Homo sapiens: one gene and its partners. The protein of the gene in region 2 interacts with the protein of the main gene of each other region in a biochemical or structural test. Each region holds a gene or a part of one and is shown on either strand. Other genes may lie near its edges. The genes, in order: SLC45A4, MAGI3, KCTD3, NHERF1, PTH2R, PALLD and ARHGAP6.

What was found.
Region 1: the proteins of MAGI3 (region 2) and SLC45A4 interact in a test that uses a peptide from one of them, tested with the Homo sapiens proteins (one large-scale study listed by IntAct).
Region 3: the proteins of MAGI3 (region 2) and KCTD3 interact in a test that uses a peptide from one of them, tested with the Homo sapiens proteins (one large-scale study listed by IntAct).
Region 4: the proteins of MAGI3 (region 2) and NHERF1 interact in a test that uses a peptide from one of them, tested with the Homo sapiens proteins (one large-scale study listed by IntAct).
Region 5: the proteins of MAGI3 (region 2) and PTH2R interact in a test that uses a peptide from one of them, tested with the Homo sapiens proteins (one large-scale study listed by IntAct).
Region 6: the proteins of MAGI3 (region 2) and PALLD interact in a test that uses a peptide from one of them, tested with the Homo sapiens proteins (one large-scale study listed by IntAct).
Region 7: the proteins of MAGI3 (region 2) and ARHGAP6 interact in a test that uses a peptide from one of them, tested with the Homo sapiens proteins (one large-scale study listed by IntAct).

The regions. Positions count from the first base shown.
Region 1 is NC_000008.11:141,298,289-141,301,788, reverse strand, and holds part of SLC45A4 (solute carrier family 45 member 4), read left to right. Parts: intron 1-277; exon of another isoform or gene 278-2,338; coding exon of another isoform or gene 2,339-2,390; intron 2,391-3,500. UniProt on the Homo sapiens protein: Proton-associated sucrose transporter. May be able to transport also glucose and fructose.
Region 2 is NC_000001.11:113,645,515-113,649,014, forward strand, and holds part of MAGI3 (membrane-associated guanylate kinase, WW and PDZ domain-containing protein 3), read left to right. Parts: intron 1-971; coding exon 972-1,128; intron 1,129-3,500.
Region 3 is NC_000001.11:215,570,304-215,573,803, forward strand, and holds part of KCTD3 (BTB/POZ domain-containing protein KCTD3), read left to right. Parts: intron 1-3,482; coding exon 3,483-3,500. UniProt on the Homo sapiens protein: Accessory subunit of potassium/sodium hyperpolarization-activated cyclic nucleotide-gated channel 3 (HCN3) up-regulating its cell-surface expression and current density without affecting its voltage dependence and kinetics.
Region 4 is NC_000017.11:74,751,628-74,755,127, forward strand, and holds part of NHERF1 (Na(+)/H(+) exchange regulatory cofactor NHE-RF1), read left to right. Parts: intron 1-3,500. UniProt on the Homo sapiens protein: Scaffold protein that connects plasma membrane proteins with members of the ezrin/moesin/radixin family and thereby helps to link them to the actin cytoskeleton and to regulate their surface expression. Necessary for recycling of internalized ADRB2.
Region 5 is NC_000002.12:208,486,792-208,490,291, forward strand, and holds part of PTH2R (parathyroid hormone 2 receptor isoform 1 precursor), read left to right. Parts: intron 1-2,220; coding exon 2,221-2,359; intron 2,360-3,500. UniProt on the Homo sapiens protein: This is a specific receptor for parathyroid hormone. The activity of this receptor is mediated by G proteins which activate adenylyl cyclase. PTH2R may be responsible for PTH effects in a number of physiological systems.
Region 6 is NC_000004.12:168,892,052-168,895,551, forward strand, and holds part of PALLD (palladin), read left to right. Parts: intron 1-2,434; exon of another isoform or gene 2,435-2,527; coding exon 2,528-2,626; coding exon of another isoform or gene 2,627-2,714; intron 2,715-3,500. UniProt on the Homo sapiens protein: Cytoskeletal protein required for organization of normal actin cytoskeleton. Roles in establishing cell morphology, motility, cell adhesion and cell-extracellular matrix interactions in a variety of cell types.
Region 7 is NC_000023.11:11,141,421-11,144,920, forward strand, and holds part of ARHGAP6 (rho GTPase-activating protein 6), read right to left. Parts: intron 2,829-3,500; coding exon 2,560-2,828; coding exon of another isoform or gene 2,438-2,559; exon of another isoform or gene 1,977-2,437; intron 894-1,976; coding exon 813-893; intron 1-812.

The DNA of each region.
Region 1 (3,500 bases), on a different chromosome or scaffold from region 2:
ATGGGGTCTCACTGAGTTGCCCAGGATTTTTTTTTTTTTTTTTTTTTTTTTTTTGAGATAGGGTCTCATTCTGTCCCCCAGGCTGGAGTCCAGTGGTGAGATCATGGCTCACTGCAGCCTCGACCTCCCCGGCTCAAGTGATCCTCCCACCTCCACCCTCCAGGTAGCTGGGCTTATGCCCAGCTAATTTTTCTTTGTATTTTTGGCAGAGACAGAGTTTCACCATGTTGCCCAGGCCGGTCATGAACTCCTGGCCTCAAGCGACCCTCCCTCCTGCCTCAGGCTCCCAGAGTGCTGAGATTACAGGCATGAGCCACTGCACCCGACCTATGGACTGTTCTCCATACTTCTCTGTGACAAAAGTATATATTGCAATTTAAAACATTTCTGTGATCATTAGGCTATGTTAACATCCAGAAGAATGTTTTATGTCATTGTAATTATCAGTACAGAATTGATCACAGAAACATAAATATCATTGATCTTGATAAACAATTACTAAATGCACAAAATACACCGGAAGGAGGTCTCAAAGAGCTGGGGGGTGGGGCCCGTTTAAGGTGCCTTAATTAAAGGGATAATTGAACTGTCCCTGGTACCGGGTACATCTCTGTTGCTGGAACGTTCCCTGGGAAGAGTGCCTTCCTCTTGTCTAGGCGGGGCAGGCAGGCTGGAGGTGGGGGCTCCCTGGGCACCGGGACTTTCTCCACAGCAGCTTCTCAGGCAGTCCAGTTTTAGGCAGGCGTTTGTGGGGACCTTGCGGCTCTCTGAGTTCCCCACACCGGAGGCCCCTCAGGATGCTCCTGTGTTTGCACGGGGCGCTTGCTGTGCTGTGTTCGCACACTTGGTCCACGGGTAAGGTCCACGCCACTTCGTCGAGTCACGGGGTCCGTGCTGCTCCATGTTAAGCTTTACTATTTAATTGCCTGTTTTCTAAATGCGCAGTGTTAAAGGGCAGAAGATGAACCATTTCACGAGTAAGCACGCTGCGGCATTTTCATCTGGTTGGGCTAAAATGTAAGACAGTGGAATTGTGCCTCGGGTTAAATTTTAATTTGACAGAAAGGTGTGTTAGAAGCAGAGAAGACTGACATGGCCAGACTTTAGATTTGCTAGAGGTTTTTGCCTGGCAGGAATCTGGTCACCCTGCTCCGCCCTTCTTCCTGCACAGGGCATCGCTGTGCCTGTTCCGGAGCGAGGCAGCTGGTCTCAGGCCATCAGGTTGCCATTAGGATCAGGGCCATGGGGTGGGTTGGGAAGGTGGGCCTCTGCCCGAGAACCAGATGAGGCTGGTCCGGGGCGTTGACACTTGGCATCCCTGAGAATTTGCTCAAATCTGGAGATGCTCAAAAAGTAGAAAGATTTACTATTTTTAGCCTTTAGACCTAATGAAATTTGGTAAGAAAATCAGTTTAGTAACCAAAAAACCACCACTTCCCATCCCACTCAGAAACAGCACGCTGAGGACTGAGAGCAGTAGAACTTTGCGTTGTGTGATGGTTTTATGACATAAGAGGAGATTTGACGGACCTGGGGTCTCTGGTGTCTCCCAGCTTTGTTGGAGGAAAGCAGGCTACTCGCCCAACTCTGTGGAATCGGTAATGTGGGTCCGGCTGAAGTTTTAACCTGTCTTCTGTCCTCAGGGCTGGCCATTAGGAGTCCACTAAGAATGCGTCACTTCCAATTCGGCCATGCAGCTATTTGGGGAGGCGATGATGTCGTCAGATCATGGGGCCAGTGCCTTCATTCCAGGGATGGGTGAGGAGAAGAGCAGTTCCACGGTCGTGTTCTAGGAATCCTGCGGTTTAAACAGTGAAGAACGGGACCAGGAAGACAGGCCAGCCCCTAATTACCCCCACAGAACCGGATTAAATCACCCTGGAAAGGGGATCCTCCATTGGTCCCTTCTCCAAAGCAGCAAATCCTTATATTTTCGTGGTATTTTGGGTATTAATACTGAAATCAATGTTTCAGTCTCTTAAAAGACTTTGAGAAACGTTTTGGCTGCTGAAGAAGAACAGGTACAGCAGAGTCCAGCTGGTTCTAGAAATTCCTGCCCTAACCTGAGGCTTTACTTCAGTATGCAAATCCGCTCCCAGCCAGGAGTACTAGAATAACTGCTAGTGGTTTTTTTCGTGTTGCTTACGTAAAACGGCATTAAAAGCTTGGAGTGTGGAAGTCCTCCCCCATCAGGGCCTGCGCACCACCACCCTCTGCTGGATGAAGCCGGATCCCGGGGCTGCGGCCACGGCCGCTCTGCTGTCCCTAACCGTGCCCATTTGAAGGGCAGCTCTGATTTGGTGGCGAGAACGACACCCACAGCTCAGGTGGTCTTGTTATGGACTTGCAGCCTGGAGCTGGTGTCTCTAGTGTGACAGGTGTCTCCCTAGGTAAGCCGAAGGGAATATCAAGGCTGTTGAAAACATGTCTAGTCCACTACTGAACTATTGAGGTGTCGAGAGTGTTTTTAATTCTTAAAGGCACGGGGCTCCCCGTCCGCTTTCTCCTTCCGTAGAAACATCATGAAGCCTGGCGTCCTCGTTGTGGGTGGGGTGCAGGGAGAGTTTATAGTCCGGGCTGGGCCCTCCTTGGCTTTGTGACCTTCCAGAAGCCACCCAGTGCTCGGAGCTTCTGCTTCCGTGTGGTAACCAGGGTGTGTGAGGGGTTTCTGTCTCCAGCACTCAGTAAGCGCCTGAGAAGGGGTCACAGCAGCACTCACGCTGCTAGACAGTGCGGCATCTGCATCCGTGCCGGGCGCCCAGCTGGGACCTCTGGAGCAGCGCCTGGTGGGGGCACTGGTGAGGGAGAGGAGCCACCGGATACGGCCGGCCTAGTGCAGTTGTGGGCCACTGGGTCGCACTGCTCATCAGCTCCCCCCACCCCCCACTGAAAAGTGCCGTTTGTCTTCTGCGTGGAGAAATGCAGCAGTGCCCTCCATGCCTTGGATTCGACTTTGAGGCACCTTTGCGGTCACTCCCCATGCCAGGTAGCTGCTGCTGGAGGGGGCTCTGTGGCCAGCCCTGCTGTTGGCCCACGCAGCATGCTAGTTCCCACACCCCTCCTCCCTGGCCAAGAGCTTGGAAGGAAGGACTCCTGGCTGCCACAGGTATGGGCAGCTGTGCCCAGCTGGCACTGCCCTCTGGGTTGGCTCCCTGGCTCCTGCGGAGGTCAGGGAGGAGGTGCTGCCGCTCCAATTTGTTTCCTTGTTTCTTTCGGGTTGGCCACTTGGCTTGCTGGGTTGAGCCTTTGGTGCCCAATTTTGCCCTCTTGTTGGGCACTGTCACTAGGCTCAGACTGTGAGCTAGCAGGGGACTGGGCCTGCTGTGGTATGTTCCATTCTGGAGATGGTCCCCAGGTGGCTGCTCAGTGCCAGGCTCAAGGCAGGTGCCTGAGAAGACAGCCATCTGGCCAGGGTGATGGGGCAGGCCTGGGAACCCCGAGGAGGGCATCTGACCCATGGCTGGGTGCGGAAAACGTCTGAGCAGGTAGTCCTTGAAAGA
Region 2 (3,500 bases):
TATAATTGATGGAAGGGTCTGATGAACTTTAACCGCCTCTGACAGAATGCTAAGATGTATGGGGAAGGGTAGGAGACTACTGTTAGCTTCTCTGCCTTCTCATTGGGTCTGGGTGATTGAAGGGTCCCCTCTAGCACGACACTTTGTAGTGGCTGACCCCTGATTACTCCCTGACAGACTGGTGCCCCTGCATTCTAGTCATTGTTAATGATCACAAACATCCATAATCTCCCTCTCCTAACAATAATCCAGGAAAACGAGCTGGTCTCAAAACCATATTTCTTAGGCCATTTATTGGATTTCATTGTTAACATTTTATTAAATAAGTCATTTTGCTTGGCTGTTATCTTGGGAAAGTTCTAGCTGAATAGGAAAAATATCAAAATATGCTACTATGCTTTCCCTTATCTAATTGTCTTGCATGGTACATTTTCTCTTAATATATGTGAATTGGCCAGACAGGGTTTTCACAGTGCCATCTTTATAACCTAAATTAGAGTTAACCTCTCCTGTTTTCTTAGAAAGAGTATTATCTTAAACATCTTCCTTAGAAATTAAACTCAGTGAATGGGAGGTGGGCCGTGCTAAGAATTTTATGAAGATATTCTCTGAATCTCCCTCTTACTTTACTTAGAAGTGCTGCCTTGTATTGTATTTCTATTTATCTTCATCTCAAAGTCAATTTGTGTCTTGGTGGTGGAGAAAAGGGCAAAATTGTTTAAACATAGGACTAACTAAGGCTCTTCAGTTGATATTACTATAAACTTTTTTCTAATTTAAGTTAAATATGTTTCAACCAAATACACATTGCTATGAAAATGAATTCCTGTAACTGTAAATCTGCTGTGTCTTTGATCCTGCCACCTATACAACTATAATCAGTTGACATATCCATTTCAGATATCAGTTTTATGAATTAATCAACCATCTGCTTTTTAAAAAATACTAAGTAAGGCTCTTTTCCATTTCAGAAAACAGATAAAAAGGAAAATGCAGGAAGTTTGGAGGCCATAAATGAGCCTATTCCTCAGCCTATGCCTTTTCCACCGAGCATTATCAGGTCAGGATCCCCAAAATTGGATCCTTCTGAGGTCTACCTGAAATCTAAGACTTTATATGAAGATAAACGTAAGTAGTTGTGGAATATTTCAGGAGAGCATATAACAAGATAAATTTGGATTTATTTTAGACTAGGACCTTCCCATCTTTCAGAAGCATATTGAAAAGTTATTCCTTCATTACCATTTTAATAGAACTCTGGACTTCTTCCATGTATATTCGACATTCACACATTCATTTTTTTCAAAATCATGCTTTAAGTGCTAGTTATCTACCAGATGCCATACTAGGTAACCAGAATACAGAGATAAATAGGTTACATAGGACCTGCACCCAAAAATATTATTAGAACTAAATGGAAAAAGACAAATATGTAATCAAATAGTATACAAATAAGTACACATAATAAGCCTAACAGGTACAGTGATAGAAAGATGAAATGGATAAATTGGGATCCAAAGAAGGAATATTCAGTTTTATCAGTGTGGGCAGTAGGAAGTGTCAGGAAAAGCTTCATACTGGAAGCAAAGCTTTAACTAAGTCATCAGGGATGAAAAAGTGTCTTTGAGGAAGATAAAAGGGAAAGATAGAAGGAATAGCACATGCACACTGGCCTTGCATGACTTGGGCTCTGCAAGTAGTTCACTTTCGCTGGGTGCAATTGGCAAGGAAAGTCACAGAGGAGAGCAGGAACAGATTGAGGAAGGCCAATGATGCCCTTCCAAGGGAGCTGGAGTTGGTCATATAAATAACAGAGAACCACAGAATGCCTTTAACTATAAGGAAGGCATAGTTTTGTGTTTTAGAAAGGTTTTTCTGGCAGGAGTATGAAGGATGAATCAGAGGTGTATGCAATTTGAGGGAGGGTGTGCAATTTGAAGAAGAAACTAAAGAGTTGACTCCTTACAGGAGTCCAGCTGAGAGATAAAAAGAGAGACTGCATAAGGCAGAAATTCATGCATGTTCCTACTAATTCACTTACTAATGATAAATCTTTTCCAAAGTAAAATTGCAGATTTGAGTAGGTATAATTTTTTAAAATTTATTTGTTCTTAGAAAGAGATGTAAATCTACCTTGGAAAAGATATGTACAAGTGGAATATATGTATAGTTGACTTAATGCTTATTTAACTAGTTGCAGAAGTACATCTTGATAATCCCAAGCCATATTCAGAAAGATGAAAACCAGTTGTACGCCCAGCAAAGCAATAATTTAAATTAGCATAACAATGTAGAATCCCTTTCTTCATACTTTCCATTCATAGCCTGATACATTATTAATACTGGTATAAACTCTGCAGTCCCATCAGGCTTCACCCATAAAATAAGTGAGTTGAACTGATGACTCTTTTTTTTTTTTTCCCCTGAGACAGAGTCTTGCTCTGTCACCCGGAGCTGGAGTGCAGTGGCACAATCTCAGCTCACTGAAACCTCTGCCTCCTAGGTTCAAGCAATTCTCCTGCCTCAGCCTCCTGAGTAGCTGGCACTACAGGCGTATGCCACCATGACTGGCTAAGTTTTGCATTTTTAGTAGAGACGGGGTTTCACCATGTTAGTCAAGCTGGTCTCAAACTCCTGACCTCGTGATCCGCCCACCTCGGCCTCCCAAAGTGGACTCTTTTAATCTCTAAAGTTCTACAATTTTAATAGGAAGTATATATCAAAAGATACTGCTTCTATAGAATATTATCAGGAATTTACTAATCTCACTTTTTACATAGTTCCCTGACATGTTTATTTCTTCTCTCTTTACAGTAAATACTTCTTACCTATAAATAACATTAATATTTTCCCAAAGGAAAAATTTTAGTCATGAAATAGATTTTTGTGACTTAATATTCTTTTTTTTTTTTTTTGAGATGGAGTCTTGCTCTGTTGCCCAGGCTGGAATGCAGTGGCACGATCTCAGTTCACTGCAACCTCTGCCTCCCAGGTTCAAGCAATCCTCCTGCTTAATATTCTAAGGAATACAACCTACCCTTTGAGGGTAGGACAGTATGAGTTAGGAGATTAGACCCTGGAAATCAACCTGGATTTAAATCTTAGCTTCACCACTTGCTATGTGACAATGGCCAACTTACTTACACCCTCAGTTTTCCCACCTAGAAAATGGGGCTAATAATAAATGTTAGCTCTTAATTATTTTCCTTTAAAATGCTATCATTTTGCAAAACTAGGCTAGGTAAGTAGTTCATATGGAATACTTTTCTGAGAGAAAGGTATTAGCTTGAGAGCAGGAATAAGGTATTTTACAGGCACTCTATACAGCAGTGCCTGTACAGATTTAATGTACCTTACCCAAGTGTTAACTTAGGTCATTTGCACCTGTCAAATATCAAACTCAAGTTTGATCATTCTGAATTCAACATTGTTATATTGATTGGACAGCATTAGAAGTTAATGGCAGTGTAATACTGAGTATATGGAAGTGAGAGTAAATG
Region 3 (3,500 bases), about 100 Mb from region 2:
TTTATGGTTTAATACTTTGTGGGTGATTCAGAAAGTAGAGTAGATGAAGTTTCATTTAGAATTGTTAGTATTCGTTATTTACAAAAAGTAATGAAGTGAATTCACTATGACTGAATTTATGATTAATTCTGTTATGGGCAAGTGTGATTTTGGGCCTCATGCAAGAGGGCTGGGACTAGCCATTGAGGACTCCTGGACAAAGAGCTTTTGAGTCAGGTATATGTTTCCAATTCCCAGGCTTTATCTCTAACTAGCCTAGCAACCTTGGACAAATATTTTGATACTTAGTCTATTAAAATGTAAAGTGACAGACAGTAGTACCAATCTTATCAGATTGTTATAGGAATTTGAAGTAATAAATGTGAAATGCAAGGGTTAGTGGCATTATCAGTACTTACAGTGCAGAATAAATAACTAGTTAGATTGCTACCAAGTTAATTTAGTAGGAGGCAAGTTGCATGAAGTATAACTGTGGGTATGCAAATTTCTTTAGTCCTTTGCTGAAACCAGATTGTACATGACTCTGTTCTTGGGACACTATGGGTATGGGATAAAAAACAAATCAAAACAGAAAAGGCTTTCAAATGATTATGCTCATCATGTGTAATTTTAAGTGTGTTAGTTTTCATGAAGTTATATTCGAGACTGGTTTTGGGGCCAGAAGTTTAAAAAAAAATTGGTGGGGATGAGGGTCTAATTCCTTTGCCCAGAAATTCCAGGTTACTAACCTTTCCCCAAAATGCTGATTAAAATTGAAACTGATAATATGATTTTAAGCAGACCTTTGTGATTTTCTAAGTAGCACATAATTTTAATTATTTGGAATACAATTGGTGAATAAGTGGTGAATATAAAAGATTGCAAGTTATAAGCTGTCCTCATTTGGAATGAATTTGATGGCCTCCAAAACAGTGAATCTGCAATGTATGAATCCTTGGATCCTTCAATTTACCATTGAGTGGATTTGCTTTGATTTTGGACCAAGTCAGTTTTCTGTGACTGGGGTAATCTGTGTATTTTTTATTTTTCTTAAGAGTCTATTAAGAAACGCATTTAGGAGCATTTGCAGTGTTTTCTTAAAGTGACTCATTTGTTAATCAGATAAATGGGCGTAGGAACTGCTTATAAACACCTAGACTGTCCATAACCTGTGAAATTAGTTAGTAGTCAACTTCTATGTGTTCCCTAAAGTACCCCTTACTGTAGTTTACATTTAAATGTCTTTAATAAATGAATTGTTTTACTGTCTTTCCTTCAGTTAGCCAATGAAAGAATACTTTTCCTTACAAATTGTAAAGTTGTATGTGGGAAGAAGTGGAGATAAACTTTTTTTTTTTTTTTTTCCGAGACGGAGTCTCGCTTTGTCGCCCATGCTGGAGTGCAGTGGCGCGATCTCAGCTCACTGCCAGCTCCACCTCCTGAGTTCACGCCATTGTCCTGCCTCAGCCTCCTGAGTAAGCTGGGACTACAGGTGCCCGCCACCACGCCTGGCTAATTTTTCGTAGTTTTAGTAGAGACGGGGTTTCACCGTGTTAGCCAGGATGGTCTCCATCTGCTGACCTCGTGATCTGCCCGCCTCGGCCTCCCAAAGTGCTGGGATTACAGGCGTGAGCCACCGCGCCTAGCCGAGATAAACTTTTAATTGTGATTGGAAAGCATGTTTTGATAATGATAGAAAATTTATTTTGGAGACTAAGGCACTTTTTATGGAACAGTGCATACACGGCTTCTGCTGTTACTGACACTGAGACTGATACTGCTAAATGATTTAAGTGGGCAGTTTAGTGACATCTGTGTGTCAACACCAGTGTATTCTGAAAGTGCTCTGTTGTAACCATAAAATGCCTGCAGATCGTACAGAAGAATCAAGTCTCCGTTTTGTACAGAACATTTAACTGAGTTTTAGAGTGTGATTCTGTTTATCACACATAAGTTTCAATAAACATTTACTGGGTGTGTGCTAGGTGCTAAGAACAATGCTTTTAGGTGGTCCTCTCTGGCTTTAAGAAAAAACAACATCTACTTTTTTAATACAAAATCCATTTCTGAAACTGAGTTTGAAAAGTGAATTTACAGATAATCCATTTATCAAGATATGTAAAATATTATGAGCCATTGTTGCCTCAGGTGCCTGGATGGACTTGCAAAGTTGAGAGATCTGTGAGACTTCTGACACTACTCTGTATAAGCCTTGGTAGTCACAGTCACCCTGGCCTGCAATCCAGTGCTATTTAATAGCCCACTTAGAAGATGGGAATGGGAAGTAGGATGTATTTTGAGGTTTGTTATGCTGCAGTGAGCATAATAAAAAAAAGTAAGCAACTTCCACGTTTTTGATAATTCCAGGCTGCTAATTTAGGTAATGGCAGACAATAGATGGATGATACAGTGTATACATGCACAGCCTGGGAAACATCCCTTAGCCATTTTGGCTGGGGTTTGGCCTGTGTTTCCTGGTGATAGTGCATGGTAACTAGTGCCACTATTCAGTCACCTTGTTTAGTTTAAGTATGAAAGGTAAAAATAAATTTAGGGATTTCATATAATGCCAGAAAATAAATGTGGAGTGAAAGTAGAGGTTTGCTAGGCTGGGTGAGATAACATTGTAGTTCAAGGTGATATCTTAAAATGAAAATACTCAGAGAAGGGCTGGACTGAACAAGTACTATATTGCTTTGTTTGCCATATCAGTTTACATAAATTATTGGTTTGTTGTCCCAGTCTATTATACTGTACTTTGGTAAAGATCCTCCCTTGGTAATATACAAGCTTGATCAAATGACAACCTCAGAACAGTGATGTATTTGGCTGAATGATTTTTGAATGAATGAAGTCAGCAGTTGCAGATAGCCCAAGACTGCCTATAAAGAAGGTGTTAAATGAGTAATTTACAGTGAAATTACTATGAGCTTAAAAAGAGATAATACAGGATTGGATATTTAGAAAAACTATTACAGGGAAGGTAAAACCTGAGTGGTATCAAGAAAGATGGACGGATCTTGAATTATTGGACATGAAGAGAGTGATCTAGCTGAATAAAGATACCAAAATGGTAGTAAGCATGAATTTTTTGGGGATATGAAGAAGTTTTGTCCTATTAGAGGGGAAAACCAGCATTTGTACTGGAGAGATGAGATGGAACCTGAAGGTAATTTTGAATGTTATACTGAGAAGTTGAGACTTGGTGTGATGGGCTAATTGTTGATTCTTCAGCAGAGATTAGCTTATTGGAAAGTAGTGTTTTAAGATGCATTATATGGCGGATAACAAGTTGTTTATTGTTATTGAGAGCTGCTTGTATAATCTTAACTCTGAATTGAAAGTAGCAACGTTTAAAAATATTAACTGTAATAAATATATTGGTACAGCTATAACTATAAAACATCTTGTAAATCATTAGCCAGTGTATTAAAACAAGTTAACTAATACTGAAATTTCAAATCATGTTCTCACTTATAATACCAGATGATTTTTAATTGCAGATTTAGTACCTCAAGACA
Region 4 (3,500 bases), on a different chromosome or scaffold from region 2:
CTCTGCCCACCGGCTTTGCTTTGTGGATGGCCTTCCCCGCCTGCCCCGTGGGGAGAGAGGAGCAGCAAGACCCGCCCTGCTGTTCCCCTGCTTAAAGCCCTCCTCCCCCCATTCACCACCAGTCACAGGATGAGGCCTAAACCCTTGAGTCTGGGTTCAGAGTGCCGGCCGGGCAGAGCCGAGCCAGCTCAGCTGTACTAGCCAGGCTGTGCGAAGCCAAGTTACCTCACCTCTGTAAGCCTCCATTTCCTCTTGTGTAAGTTGGGGGTTATGGCAGCTACCTCGGAATTGCATGAGGCTGTGTGTAAAGCACGTAGCTCAGTGCCTGGCACTGAGTCCAGGCTCAGCCAGCCTTTGCAGTTGGTATTGGAATGAATACATATTTCATAGTGATCATTGCACACCTATCATGGGGCAGCTAGCGCTGGGTCAGCCTGCCTAGTTGGGCAAATGCCACTGTGGCCAAGCCTGGCACACAGTCAGTGCCTGATCGATGGTCACTGTGGGTTAAGAATGATACGTTGTGGCCAGGTGTGGTGGCTCACACCTGTAATCCCAGCACTTTGGGAGGCCAAAGTGGGAGGATCGCCTGAGCCCAGGAGTTTGAGACCAGCCTAGGCAACATGACAAGACCCTGTCTCTATTAAATTTTTTCTTTTTTTTTTTTAAGAGTTATATGCTGTTCCATGGCCCTTCTCCATCTGGCAGCCTGTTCTCACCACTGCCTCCCTACCCCCAAAACCACACCCAGGGTCCGAATTCCCCTCTAGCCTCTAAGCCTTCACACCCTGACACTTCTGTCCCCTCCCAGGGAGCCTGTCCTTAATCCAGTAGGCAGAGTTAGCATTTCCTTTCCTTCACTTTTTTTGTTTTTGTTTTTGTTTTTGTTTTTTTTGAGACAGATTCCACCCAGGCTGGAGTGGTGTCGCAACCTCGCCTCGCTGCAGCCTCGACCTCCAGGGCTCAATCGATCCTCCCACCTCATTCTCCCTAGTAGCTGGGACTACAGGCATGCACCACTATTCCCAGCTAATTTTTAAATTCTTTGTAGAGATGGAGTTTCACCGTGTTGCCCAGGCTGGTCTTGAACTCCTGGGCTGAGGTGATCTGCCAGCCTCGGCCTCCGCCTCCTCTTTGTCCTTACATCTTTTATCGCTCTAAACACACAATATTTTAATCATCTGTTTGTGACCTTTTTCTCCACTACGTGGTAAGCCCAAGGGCATCAACTGTGGCCTATTTGTGTTTCTATCCCCAGCGCTGTCCTTGGCACATGGTAGGGAGGCTCTCAAAAACAGTTTTTGAATTAATGAATGAATATATAACAACAGTCAGGGACCTTTGTCCTCATTCAGCTCATCCCGCCCCGCCCAGAGATTGGAATTCCAGATAGAACCTACCCACTCTTCTTTCTTGCCTGCTAGCAGCTTCTATTTGAAAACTAGAAAGCCAAAAGTCCAGGCTTTGGGGTCAGCCAGATCAGTGTTTGAATCCCAGCTCTGCCGTGTGCTGGTTCTGGGATCCTGGGAGTTCATTTTTCCCTGCAACCCTCAGCCTCCACCTCTGTGAAAGGCACTGCCTGCAGGGTTATTGGGAAGATTTGGTGGCATGACAGGTTTGTAAATGAAAGTGCTAGTTTGGGGTGTTTCCTGCCAGCCCTGACCCTGATCCCAGAGTCAGAGTGCAGGCACCCCAGGGAGCAAGGTGGGTGGTGGGGCACAGTTAGCTGGAGGGCCATCAACCTCTTTCCCAGGGCGGGCGGGCCATTTTACACCAACCAAGTTGGAGCTCTGGTAGGGCAGAACAGAGCTTGAGCTGCTGGGTGTTTGGATTTGAAATGGACAGGGTATGTGATTGTTTGTGTGTTGGGATCTCTTTCTTTGCTGGCAAAACAGTGTAGCCCCTGGTTCTTACCTTCAAGCTCCTGTTAACTCAGTAATTCTGGAGATGATTCTCTTGGAGATAGATGGGGGCTTCCTGGCCGGGCGCAGTGACTTGTGCCTGTAATCCCATCACTTCGGGAGGCTGAGGCGGGAGGATCGCTTAAGCCCAGGAGTTTGAGACCAGCCTGGGCAACATAGTGAGACCTCGTCTCTACCAAAAAAACAGGGGGAGGGGGGTGAATGGGGGCTTCCTTCTCAAGGAACTCCATATGTCTAGATGGGGTCCTTCTCCCCTTTCCCAGATGTCCCATCTCAATGGTCCCTGGGAAAGTGGGGTGGGAAATTAATAAGAAACTCAGGCCAGGCACGGTGGCTCACGCCTGTAATCCCAGCACTTTGGGAGGCCGAGGCGGGTGGATCAGTTGAGGTCAGGAGTTGAGGTCAGGAGTTCAAGACCAGCCTGGCCAACATGGTAAAAACCCATCTCTACTAAAAATACAAAAATTAGCGAGGCGTGGTGGCAGGTGCCTGTAATCCCAGCTACTCGGGAGTCTGAGGCAGGAGAATGGCTTGAACCTGGGAGGTGGAGGTTTCAGTGAGCCGAGATCGCGCCACTGCACTCCAGCCCGAGCAGCAGAGTGAGACTCATCTCCAAAATAAAAAAAAAAGAAAGAAGAAGCTCAGCCGAGGTCTTGTTGGTGCTGCAGGACTCTTTACAGGGAGAAACCAGAGCTCTAGACCCCAATAACAAATGTTCCTCTGTTTTCGTTGCTCTAAGATAGAGTGGCCCTACCTGGAAGGAAACAGGTTTGTACAGTGCCTTTAGGCACTCTACCTATGACATAAAGATGTTGACATGCATTTCTTTCTTTCTTTCTTTCTTTCTTTCTTTTTTTTTTTTTTTTTTTTCCTGAGACAGTCTTGCTCTGTTGCCCAGGCTGGAGTGCAGTGGTGTGATCTCGGCTCACTGCAACCTCCGTCTCTCAAGTTCAAGCAATTGTCCTGCCTCAGCCTTCCATGTAGCTAGGATTACAAACACCCGCCACCACACCCTGCTAATTTTTGTATTTTTAGTAGAGACGGAGTTTCACCACGGTGGCCAGGCTGGGTGGCACCTGTCACAACACCCTGCTAATTTTTGTATTTTTAGTAGAGATGGGGTTTCACCACATTGGCCAGGCTGGTTTCAAACTCCTGACCTCAGGTAATCCACCTGCCTCGGTCTCCCAAAGTGCTGGGATTATAGGCATGAGCCACCACACCCAGCCAATATGCATTTCATTGTCCCCCAGACAAATTAGCTATTGTTTTCTCTATTTTGTAGGTTGACAGTAAGTGTTCAATACATGATAGCTACTATTTGTGTCTAGCACTGTGCTAAGTACTAACCTTGCCTGTCTCATTTAATCCACATGACCACCAGTGAGGCAGATATTGGCCCCATTCTCTGCCTATGGAGGCTGAGGCTTGATCAGTTAAGGTGGCCATGGCGGGTCCCAGGACTCTGAGCTAGCGACTCCTCCCACACAGCGCAGGGGTGTGTCTTGGAACCCAACCCTCTGACTCTAGTGCCTGCACAGCCATTTGGCCACATGAGTAGGCTGTGCTTGAAGCCTG
Region 5 (3,500 bases), on a different chromosome or scaffold from region 2:
CCAGTTAGGTCAGAGGAACCCACTGTTTATCAAGGATCTTGCCTTGGATGGAATAGATTTAAGGTAGAATCTTCATATTGAATAGGCTGTAGGTAACTCAAAGTAGGAGGTGTGAGTACCAGGAGCAGCATAGGAGAAAGCCCGTAGGCTGCAGGGAAGCTCTGAATGTGAGGATGAGTGGGTGGAGCAGATGGTTCAGGTACTAGTGAGAGATAAGACAGGCAGAGGACAATGAGGTGTAGGAAATGTACAACTCTACCTACTTCTACATTAGGCATTTCAATATGATTTCAACATGATTTTATGGGACATTCTAGCTCCTATTGTCAAGAGGGTTATGATAGGAAAGTGTATGTACATGGAAGATGATTCCCAGTAAAGCCTGAGAATATTATAGCTCATATGGACTTCTAGGCCCTATTTCCTCATTTTGGAGATAAAACTAAATCACACTCACACAGGTAGTTAATATCAAGTATGGAACCTGAATCAAGATCTCTGTAGCCTTAGTCTAGTGTGATCTGTACTCACTCATACAGCTTATTTCCAAGAAGAAAAACAGATAAATAAAGCAGCAGGAGGAAAGACTAGTGAGAAAGGAAGAGGGTCAATTGTTTGAGATTATTAGAGTGTAAATAATTCACAGAGAAAGGGAGATATTTGCAATAATTATGAAAGAAGAAGCCAGATTTGGCAATTTCTTGGATAAAAAGTATAACCTCACCCACTCCAGGAAAACCTCCCAGAAAATAGTATGCTTGAGGGTGCTAGCTATCTATTGCTGCAAAAGGAATGACCACAAACCTAGCGGCTTAAAACAACTCCCTTGCTATTTCCCAGTTTCTGTAGGTCAGGAATCTGGGTATGGATCCCCTGCTTCAGGATCTCTTACCAGGCTGCAATTGATTTGTCAGCTGGGGCTGTGGTCTTATCCTAAGGTTGGACTGGGGAAGAATCTACTTCTAAGTTCATGTGATTGTTGGTAGGATTCAGTTACTTGCTGGCTGTTGTCCAGATGCCACCTTTCCTTGCTACATGGGCCTCTCAGTATAGCAGCTCACAACATGGTGGCTTGCTTCATCGAACCAAGCAAGAGAGCCAGTCTGCTAGTGAGATGAAAGTTACAGCCTTATGCAATGTAATCTCAGAAGTGGGATGCTGTCATCTTTGCCATAATCTACTGGTTAGACACAAGTCCCAGGTCTTGCCTACACTTAGAGGGAAAGGATAAAACAGGGGCAAAAATAGCAGGAGGGGGGATCATGGAAGCCCACTTAGAATAACCATCATATTGGAAAGCCTGGAATTCTTCCAAATACTTAAGAAAACTTGTAGAAAGAGGCAGTTAAGGAGAATGATGAAACTATATCAAACTACTTAGTTTGCCAAAAAGACAGACAAAATAGACCTAAAGGCACCTTGAGACAGAGTATTTGGCAGAGAATATTCAGAGAAGTCAAGATGAACTGACCACATATGGCTCATAGAAAAATATAAAATGTCTCCCAAAATAAGCATCATCAGTGAAAAATGGAGATACAAATGTAAGAAGAAACAAGGGAGTAATTGATTTTAAAATGAACAAAATAAGCTAAACTACTTCTATGAAAGTAAAGGCAGTTAATCTGGATAGAAGTAACACTTCTTTAAGTCTCAAATATAGAAGTTAAAGGAAACTTAGGACAGAAAAAAGGCATTTTACAACTTTATGTAAATAGACTCCTTTAAGCAAGAGGAGTGGAAATAAGACTGGAGAGATTTAGGGGCTAGCAATTACAGGGAGTGAGAATAAACTACCTGGTTTAGTATGTAAGTGACAGAAAGAGGAGGGAAGGGAAAAAACTAGCAGAAGCAGTGGGATCCAAAGAGATAGAGAAAGGTCAGCCCAAGCCTGGGCAACATGGCGAGACCCCGTCTCTACAAAAAAATTAAAAAAATATTCAGGCATGGTGGCAAGCACCTGTAGTCACAGCTACTTGGGATGCTGAGACAGGAGGATTGCTTGAGCTCAGGAGGTCGACACTGCAGTAAGCTGTGATCACGCCACTGTACGCCAGCCTGGGAGACAGATAGAGTGAAACCCTGTCTCAAGAAAAGATAAAAAGAAAGTGTCAGCCCCACCCCCATTAGCTCTGCTAAGTTTTTTTTTTCCTCCAGCACGCTGTCTTTACTGAAAGGCACTCTAGTTAATGAATGAAAAGACTTGCTGTTCTCCTTTAGGAAACTGGCCAAATCGACACTGGTCCTGGTCCTAGTCTTTGGAGTGCATTACATCGTGTTCGTATGCCTGCCTCACTCCTTCACTGGGCTCGGGTGGGAGATCCGCATGCACTGTGAGCTCTTCTTCAACTCCTTTCAGGTAAAGGGTGCTGCCTAGTCATCTGATTCTTGTAATTTGCAGTTTTTTTTCCTTTTGGTCACTTACAACCTTTTTCTCTGCACTCTCTCTGGCTTTGATGCACCTGTCTGGGGAGTTGGGGGGTGCAGAAAGGTCAATATTTCTATAGTGCCTGTGCTTTTCTGTCCTATAGAGGTCAGGTTAATCCTCTGCTCACAGCAGGAGCAGTTCTGGAGCTGTTCGTCACACAAAAAAAGCCTGGACAGAGAGATAAGGAACATCTTGTTGTAAAATATGTAACACCTATAAGAATGAGGACCTCTGCTTGTGTGTATGGAAGATAAACAAAAGTAAAAGAAGGTGAAGGCAGGAAAGAGCAAAAAGGAGTGGGGAGGGGAGACAAAACTGAGGAAGAGGTTGCTGGCACACATTTTATCTCATTTGAAGCTGTAATTACCATCATCTCGCACATGGATTACTCTTTGTCCTGCTTACTCATTTGCTAGTCCACATATGATAGTCTGGAGAATCTTAAGAATATACATTTGATCATGTCATATACTTGCCAGAAATACTCAAAGATTTCCAGTTGCAGTCAAACTAAAACTCACATACCATTGTTTGGCATACACAGCCCTGCATGTCGTGGAGCCTGTCTGCCTCTCACCCTGTATCACACCAGCCTCCATGTAGCTCATTAAGTTAGGGCACAATATTGCTTCCATACGTTCTGTTGCTTAAGTTCACCTCTGCCTCTAGGGCTCACACTTGTATTCCTTTTGCCTGGACTGCTTTTTCCCCAAATATTTACACAGCTGGCTACTTGTTCTTGTCACTCAAACACACTTGAGTATCACTCTCAGAGATACTTTGTTGAGTTCCTCATCTAATACATCCACTACATTACTCTTTTTAAAATCACTCATTTCTTTTCTTGCATAACCCTTCTCATTTTGCATTTTTCTCATGTGCTATTTGTTTATATTTTATCCATGTCTCTTCCTTTCTAGAACAGGGAACTTGTCTGTTTTGTTTACATTGTTTATCCCTGCCCCTGTCATGCTGAACAGCTACCACACTGCATAAGCTCAGTAAATATTTTTGAATGAACGAAATAAAAGGTTTCTTTGTATTCTTACCATACAATACTTTATGTTTGTAG
Region 6 (3,500 bases), on a different chromosome or scaffold from region 2:
TATATAGATAAGATGTTTTCTCCACTGGATTTAAGTCTTTCCTCATCAGTTTTTGTTTGTTTTTTCATCTCTTTTGTTGATGCTATCCTTTTAAAATACTCTTTTCTTTTTAAAATACTATTTCCAGAATATTTTAAGGGGATGGGAAAAGCAAATCTAGAAAATAAGACTTACCAGGTAAAGGAGAGGAACCTTCTGTAGCTTTATTAAGGAATTGTCACTGGAAAAATTTGCCTGGCTCTTAAGTACAAGACAAGGATCTTTTTGTATAAAATCTCCCTTTCAGACACCTTTTTCAGAGTAGAAAGCTCTCTATAATTATGTTTTCTGAGAATTTTAATTATCAAACATTGATAAGTAAAACTGTGAGAACAGACCACACTTGAAAGCTGGAGAGCAGAGGAGGGGTGCTGAATGCTGATTTTAGTTTATTAGGGTATCTTAATCTGATTAAGAAAGATTAAAATTTCAATGAAGTTTTGTGTTAGTTACTCATTTCACTGAGTATAGAAGATTTTCACAAGAGGAAAATATTTTCTCCCTGAAATAAGTGATTGCATGTGTAAATGTACATACTCTGGAAGTTTTCCCTGGCTCTGTCAACTAAATCTTTTAAAAGATTAAAATAAATACATATGGGAACTTTTTCAAGCCAGGTAAGGCATCACTCCAGCTTTTTTTTTTTTCTTTTTGGCTGTCTATGTCAATGTTCCTTATGAACTAAGATTCTCTTGGTTAAGGTAAGACTTCCTTAAGCTATTGGTCAACCCACATTATATATATTGTATGTATATTTATATTCATCTGTTTAGCAGTGAATAACATTCACAGTAAGTTCCACAGGTATCCACACTTGAGAGCTTAAAATGACAAGTAAGGTTTCCCTTTTTAGAAAATGGGATTCTCAACCAACTTTTTCCTAATATTATATATCATTCTCTTTCTTATCTTTGGTGTCTGTAGACACGGGCTTTTATAGCCAGATGGCATAGTGACTTAGAAAAAAAACTGTGAAGTATATTTGGCTTCTAGTGGTAGCAGGTGCATTCTGGTGAAGGAATAGATATGAAATTGATATTTCTGCTTATAAGGAACAGAGTGAAAATCACTCCAGGCCTGCCTTTGATGTGTTACAATTCTCCGTGAAAAGATTAGGGAAGCTTTTTAAGAGATCAGGTATTTAAGACTCTCTTTGAAAATTGAATTCACTGATTTTTTAATAGGTGTGAGAAAATTAATTTAATAACATAGTGGACTCAGATGCTTCATGCCGCCCTCAGACTCCTACCTCTGCCTCTTCTTGTCCTCTGACCTTTCTTTATTAAGTGAAATAATTTGAACTGCAGGACTATTTGTCATTTGGCACTTGACTTGTTTCACTTCCCGGTTTCAGCTGGGATTGAGATCAGCAATTACTGGAAATTGTAAATTTACCCAACATATTTTCCTGATTAGAGAGCTTCCAATCAAATTTGCATTTATATTTAGAAGTTTGGAAGTTTATCTGAAATAATTTCTGTACATTTTTTAGATTCTGCCTTACCAATTATTCTCTATTTCTAATCAAACACTTGCTTATAAAATGCTCCCGATGAGGCAGGTGGTATCTGAAAGTTCCTTCCAAACCTGTAAGTCTAAGGCACTTTAGAATGAGTATTCAAGAGCAGGTATCACCCCAACAGTCACACAAAAATGCCGGCATTTCTTATGTATAAGAATGGCATAGGTAAAACGGTTTGGGCCAATTCCAAAGTGCTAGCTGCGAGATGCAAGAACACTACCACTTTCTTTGCCTGATGGGCAAGCAGTCTGCTTCTGGGTCAAGTCAATTGAGGCTGTTAGCTTTGGCAAGTGTCTTGTGTAATCCTGTTGCTAATTCAGCCATGTGCATCATTCTCTGTGGATTATAATAGTTGCCGCCAATCCCCTACATTACACAGCAGCCTGGGAAATGCTCTTAGAGGTAAGAACCCCATCACTGCCAGCTCATCCACATCTTCCTTTAGCTAAACATTTACTGAGCACATACTGTTAAATGACTGATAGAATTATTTCCATTAGCGATACCTGTTCTTTTTTTAGTCAGTTTATTCTCCTTTTGAGTATCTTTGTTTTTTCTTTCAGTCAGTATTAGAGCTGACTTGGGTGTTCTGAAGCTGATGGATGGCTATAAAAATAACATTTCTTTTAAATTGTATTTTGCTGTTTAAATATCTTTTTTTCCATGTTTTTCATTAAGGACATGACAAATCTTTTCTGTGTGGTTTCTTCCTTGTCGCTTATTGCTCACTTTAAATTTGTGCTGTACCAATTGGTGGCTCTCTGGATTAGGCCATTAGTACTAGAAAGGGAGGTAAAAAGGTAGAACAACTGAAGCAAGAAAAAGAAATATGCAGGTATCTGAAGCTGGAGAGAGAACACTTACAGAAAATCATGAAAGTGTGTTGTTTTTTACTCTTTTTCATAGGGCAGTACATATTTGTGATTTTTTTCTAATTTTGTATTTTTTGTGACTTACGTTGTTTAGAGGTTAACATACGAAGAAAGAATGGCTCGTCGACTGCTAGGTGCTGACAGTGCAACTGTCTTTAATATTCAGGAGCCAGAAGAGGAAACAGCTAATCAGGTACCATGTTGCTCTGGACTTCTTAGGGTAACATTTATTCTGTCCCCCTTTTCCATCTTCCTTATGGATACTGTTCTTGGGATGAGTTCTGTGGAAAGTAGAGGGCAAGTCACAGAAAAGCAGTATTAATATCATCAGTCAACCTCACAGCTAATTTTTATTGAGCACATACTATGTTAAGTGACTGACAGAATTCTTTCCATCAGTGATACCTGTTCTTTTTATTCTTCTTCTTGATTATTCTCCTTTCCAGTACATTTCCATTTTCCTATCCTAAGTTTTATGCAAAATAATTTTGTGTGGAGAAACACATTTTCGCCGACATTGTCTGAAATAACTAGTGAATATTTCCCATTAGAGTTGGACCTTGAACAACACGGGAGTTAGGGGGACCAACCCCAAGCACAGTTAAAAACCCACATATGGCCGGGCACAGTGGCTCATGCCTGTAATTGTAGCACTTTGGGAGGCTGAGGTGGGTGGATCACGAGGTCAGGAGATCGAGACCATCGTGGCCAACATGGTGAAACCCCGTCTCTACTAAAAATACAAAAATTAGCCAGGTGTGGTGACGCACACCTGTAGTCCCAGCTACTCGGGAAGCTGAGGCAGGAGAATTGCTTGAACCCGGGAGGTGGAGGTTGCAGTGAGCTGAGGTTGTACCACTGCACTCCAGCCTGGCAGCAGAGTGAGACTTCGTCTCCAAAACAAAACAAAACTAAAAACACATATACGACTTTTGACTCTTCAAAAACTTAACTAACAGCCTACTGTTGACCAGAAGCCTTACTGATAACAAAGAGTTGATTAACACGTATTCTGTATGTTATATGTATTATAGACTGTAGTCTTAAAGTAAGCTAGAGAAAAGAAA
Region 7 (3,500 bases), on a different chromosome or scaffold from region 2:
TATATAAAGAGTTCATAAGAATTTAAAAAACACTGGCATACATAAATAGGAAATGATATAAGTAACAATTCAATGGGGGGAAGTTCAGCAAATTAATAGAAACACTGAAAAATACTGGTAGGAAAGAAATGCAAATCAAATTAACAAATGCAATTTTGTTTTTTAAGTTAGCAAAAGTGAAAACCCACTAACTTGCAATACTGATGAGATTTGCACACAGCAGTGTAAAATCTCCTGCCATCCACAGTTTACAGAATGTAAGGTAGTGGGTCCCATACAGCACAGGAGGTGACTGTACCTCCAGATTCTTGGAAAGCCTTGTTATATTTGACGCACTTCCCTGTTTGGGATTTATAACCTTTGACTTGCTTTCCAAAATTTTGTGAATCTATTAATAATTTGAAAAATTAATTACATAAAAGAGGCTCCTGAAAGTGTAACTTATTACAACAATAACAAAAAATTTCAAATGACTTAGTATTGGTTTGTAAGCTATGATTATGCACTCTGTGGAATACCCCTGGCCCTTAAAAAGGATAATGGAGAGTAACTGGAAAATGGAAGTTAGAAAATAATACAAAGTTGCACAGACAGAGTGACTGTAACTATGAAAACCTTTGCAAAGGAAATGGAAAAAAATATAGTCAAAGATTGGCATATTTGGGTGGAAAGCCTAAGGATAGTTTCATCCCCTCCCATTTTCAGCATTTCCCAAGTAATGTTTGACAAGCATGTAATATAATGATAGTAAAGAAAACTTTAGAAAATAATTTTAAAAGTAAATGCAATAAAGTTTAAAATTAATACTTCACCTGTCATTCCTGGGTCTTTGGATCCGCTTTTTAATGTTGAATGCCAAGTTCCCCAGATATCGAAAGGCTCCTCTGACAGATCTAGGGAAAAAGTGTATAAAAAGGTATATAACACAAAAGGAAAATTAAAAATCAATGAACATTTTAATAACATCTCTTCTGTGCAAAGTATTGTATTCAAGATCCTGTTGTATACAAAACAGAATACAATTCAGATCCACCTTTCAGCGTGTTCATTCTACTTGGGATTTACAAAAAGGCCCTTTCTATATCATGCTCGTGGTAGACAGAATAAGGGCCCCCCCAAAGATATCTGTGTCATAATCCCACAAATCTACAAAGATGTTATTTTCGAAAAGGGCTTTGCAGGTGTGATTAAATTATGGTTCTTGAGATGGGGAGATTTTCCTGGATTATCTGGATGGGGCCAATATAATTACAAGGGTCCTTATAAGAGAGGGGTAGGAGAGAAGATGTTGCTAGACTGTTGGCTTAAAAGATGGAGGAAGGGGCCTCGAGCCAAGGAATGCAGCAGCTTCTAGAAGCTAGAAAAGGCAAGAAAACGATTGTGCCCTAGGACGTCCAGAAGGGAAAGAGGCCCTGTGGACCCATTTTAGACTTCTCACCTCCAGAACCATAAAATAATAAGTTTGCATGTTATAGGAAATGAATAGAAGGGTGATGGGTGACAACAGCTTTATAGGTGCTAAACACATTAACACAGAACTAGAGGAACAATAGAGTTTCTGTACTATCCTCAGGAATACTTTGCTATTGGTATCACTGGATTTCTTCATGCATGCATTCACTCATAAATCCCCTTAGCTTATCCATCAATATTTATGGAGTAAGGCACTACATTAGGCTTTTTCACCATCTCATTTAATCCTCACTACAATCCCATGATGGGATTATAATTACGATTTATAGCAGCAGACGTCTACTGGGTGCCTCCACGTGTTCAGCAGTTCACATGCGTTATCTCACTTCATCCCTAGGAGGTTCCCAGCAGATCATTTTACAGACGATGCAACTAGCGTAAGGAGCAGGTAAGAAATGCACACAAGATTACACAGCAAGTATTATCGAGTGCGTATTACATTTGAAGTGCTGCGTTGAGGGCTTTACATGGATTAGTTCATTAAACTCAATGAATTAAATACTGTTATCATTCTGAGTTTTCACAGCAGGAGGAAATGGGACTCTGGGAAGCTCAATCGCTCACTGGAGATCCTGCAGGTTGAAAGTGGCAGAGCAGGTTTGTGACTCCCAGTATAGTGCTCTCTTGTCATTGGATACTAACACTATTTGGTTCTGGAAGGTTGTCTTCATACATATAGTAGGTTCAGCTTGTTTTCTTTAGAAATGTAACAGCAGTAATTGGGTGGCACCTCAGACTAGCAAATATGCAACCCAAATCCAGTATACATAAAGTTCCTAGGATGCTGGAGGGAAAAAGAATCAGCTGGGAATAGGAGTGGCTCCTCTGGGCATGCGTTTATTTCCCAGATATCTGAGACTTGGAGTGTGGCCTGCAGGGACCCTCCCAGCCAACGACTGGGCTCGCCATACCTTCCTCTTCCTAGAGTAGGCGTTCAGCAGGTACTCGGTAAATGCAGGTTGAATTACAGAAACATCAAATAAGGGAGAGACGAAGAGAAGGTCCGAAGAGCCCCACACCATGCCACATGCAACAAGAGGAGGGTCGCTTGTTTTGGCCAGCGCCTGCTGGCCAGGCTCCAGTTACCTTTCCCAAGCCTTGGTCCAGGAGAACTTTCCCTTGACTTTGACGACGACAAGTGGCCCACCAGCATAAACTGCCCTGGCACTCTGTAAAGCTTCTCCGAGCCCCCCGGGGCCGCGTCCTCTTGCATAGCCAGCAGGGAGCGCTCAGACAGCACTGGGGAGTTGTTGTCATAAGGGGAGATGTCTCCGCTGGAGGCCTTGTTGGAGTCTGTAGATGAATGCCTCCCTCCCACGGAAAAGGAAACTTCCGACTGCAGCATGTCAGGGCTTCTGGCACAATGAGACAATTACAGGTGCGTGAGTTTGTTAACAAGTAGTGACCAGATTTAAACAATATGGCTATTACACAAATGACTGGAGGAGTATGCGTGGACACGGGCTGAAACAAAAAGACCATTTTGAGCAATGTTCCAAGACATGTACATCCATGACGTGAAAGGGTTTCAACGATATGACCAGCAGAGGGCAGTAAAACCCAACAGATATAACAGGAAAAGGCAATGATGGAGAAGGCACGGTGAGAATGAAACCGACAAGGAGCCCTGCATTTGCCAATGGGCATCGCTAAGTGCCTCAGGGACTCATTCCTGCTTCCATTTTTAAGTGAAAGTCTGATGCTCACTATCTATTAGGTAAGGATACACTAGTAGATAACTCTTTCACTTTCCTCAATATCCTGCATTAAAAATAATTCAGATAAAACTATGGTTGACACTTTGCTTGAAGTTCATTATGGCTTTCTGGACAACTTTTCCATCCCACCAAAATACTTACTGTACTTAGTGTAAATAAATCCATCCTTCATGTGATAAAGATGTTGATGCCACCGGTGGGAATAAGTGTTTCATGTATAAAGTAGTGACAAAAACAATAAATATATGACCCTCACTAGACTCCATTTTATTCAAATACATCTAAAATGATTCTACAAGGCACTAGTGC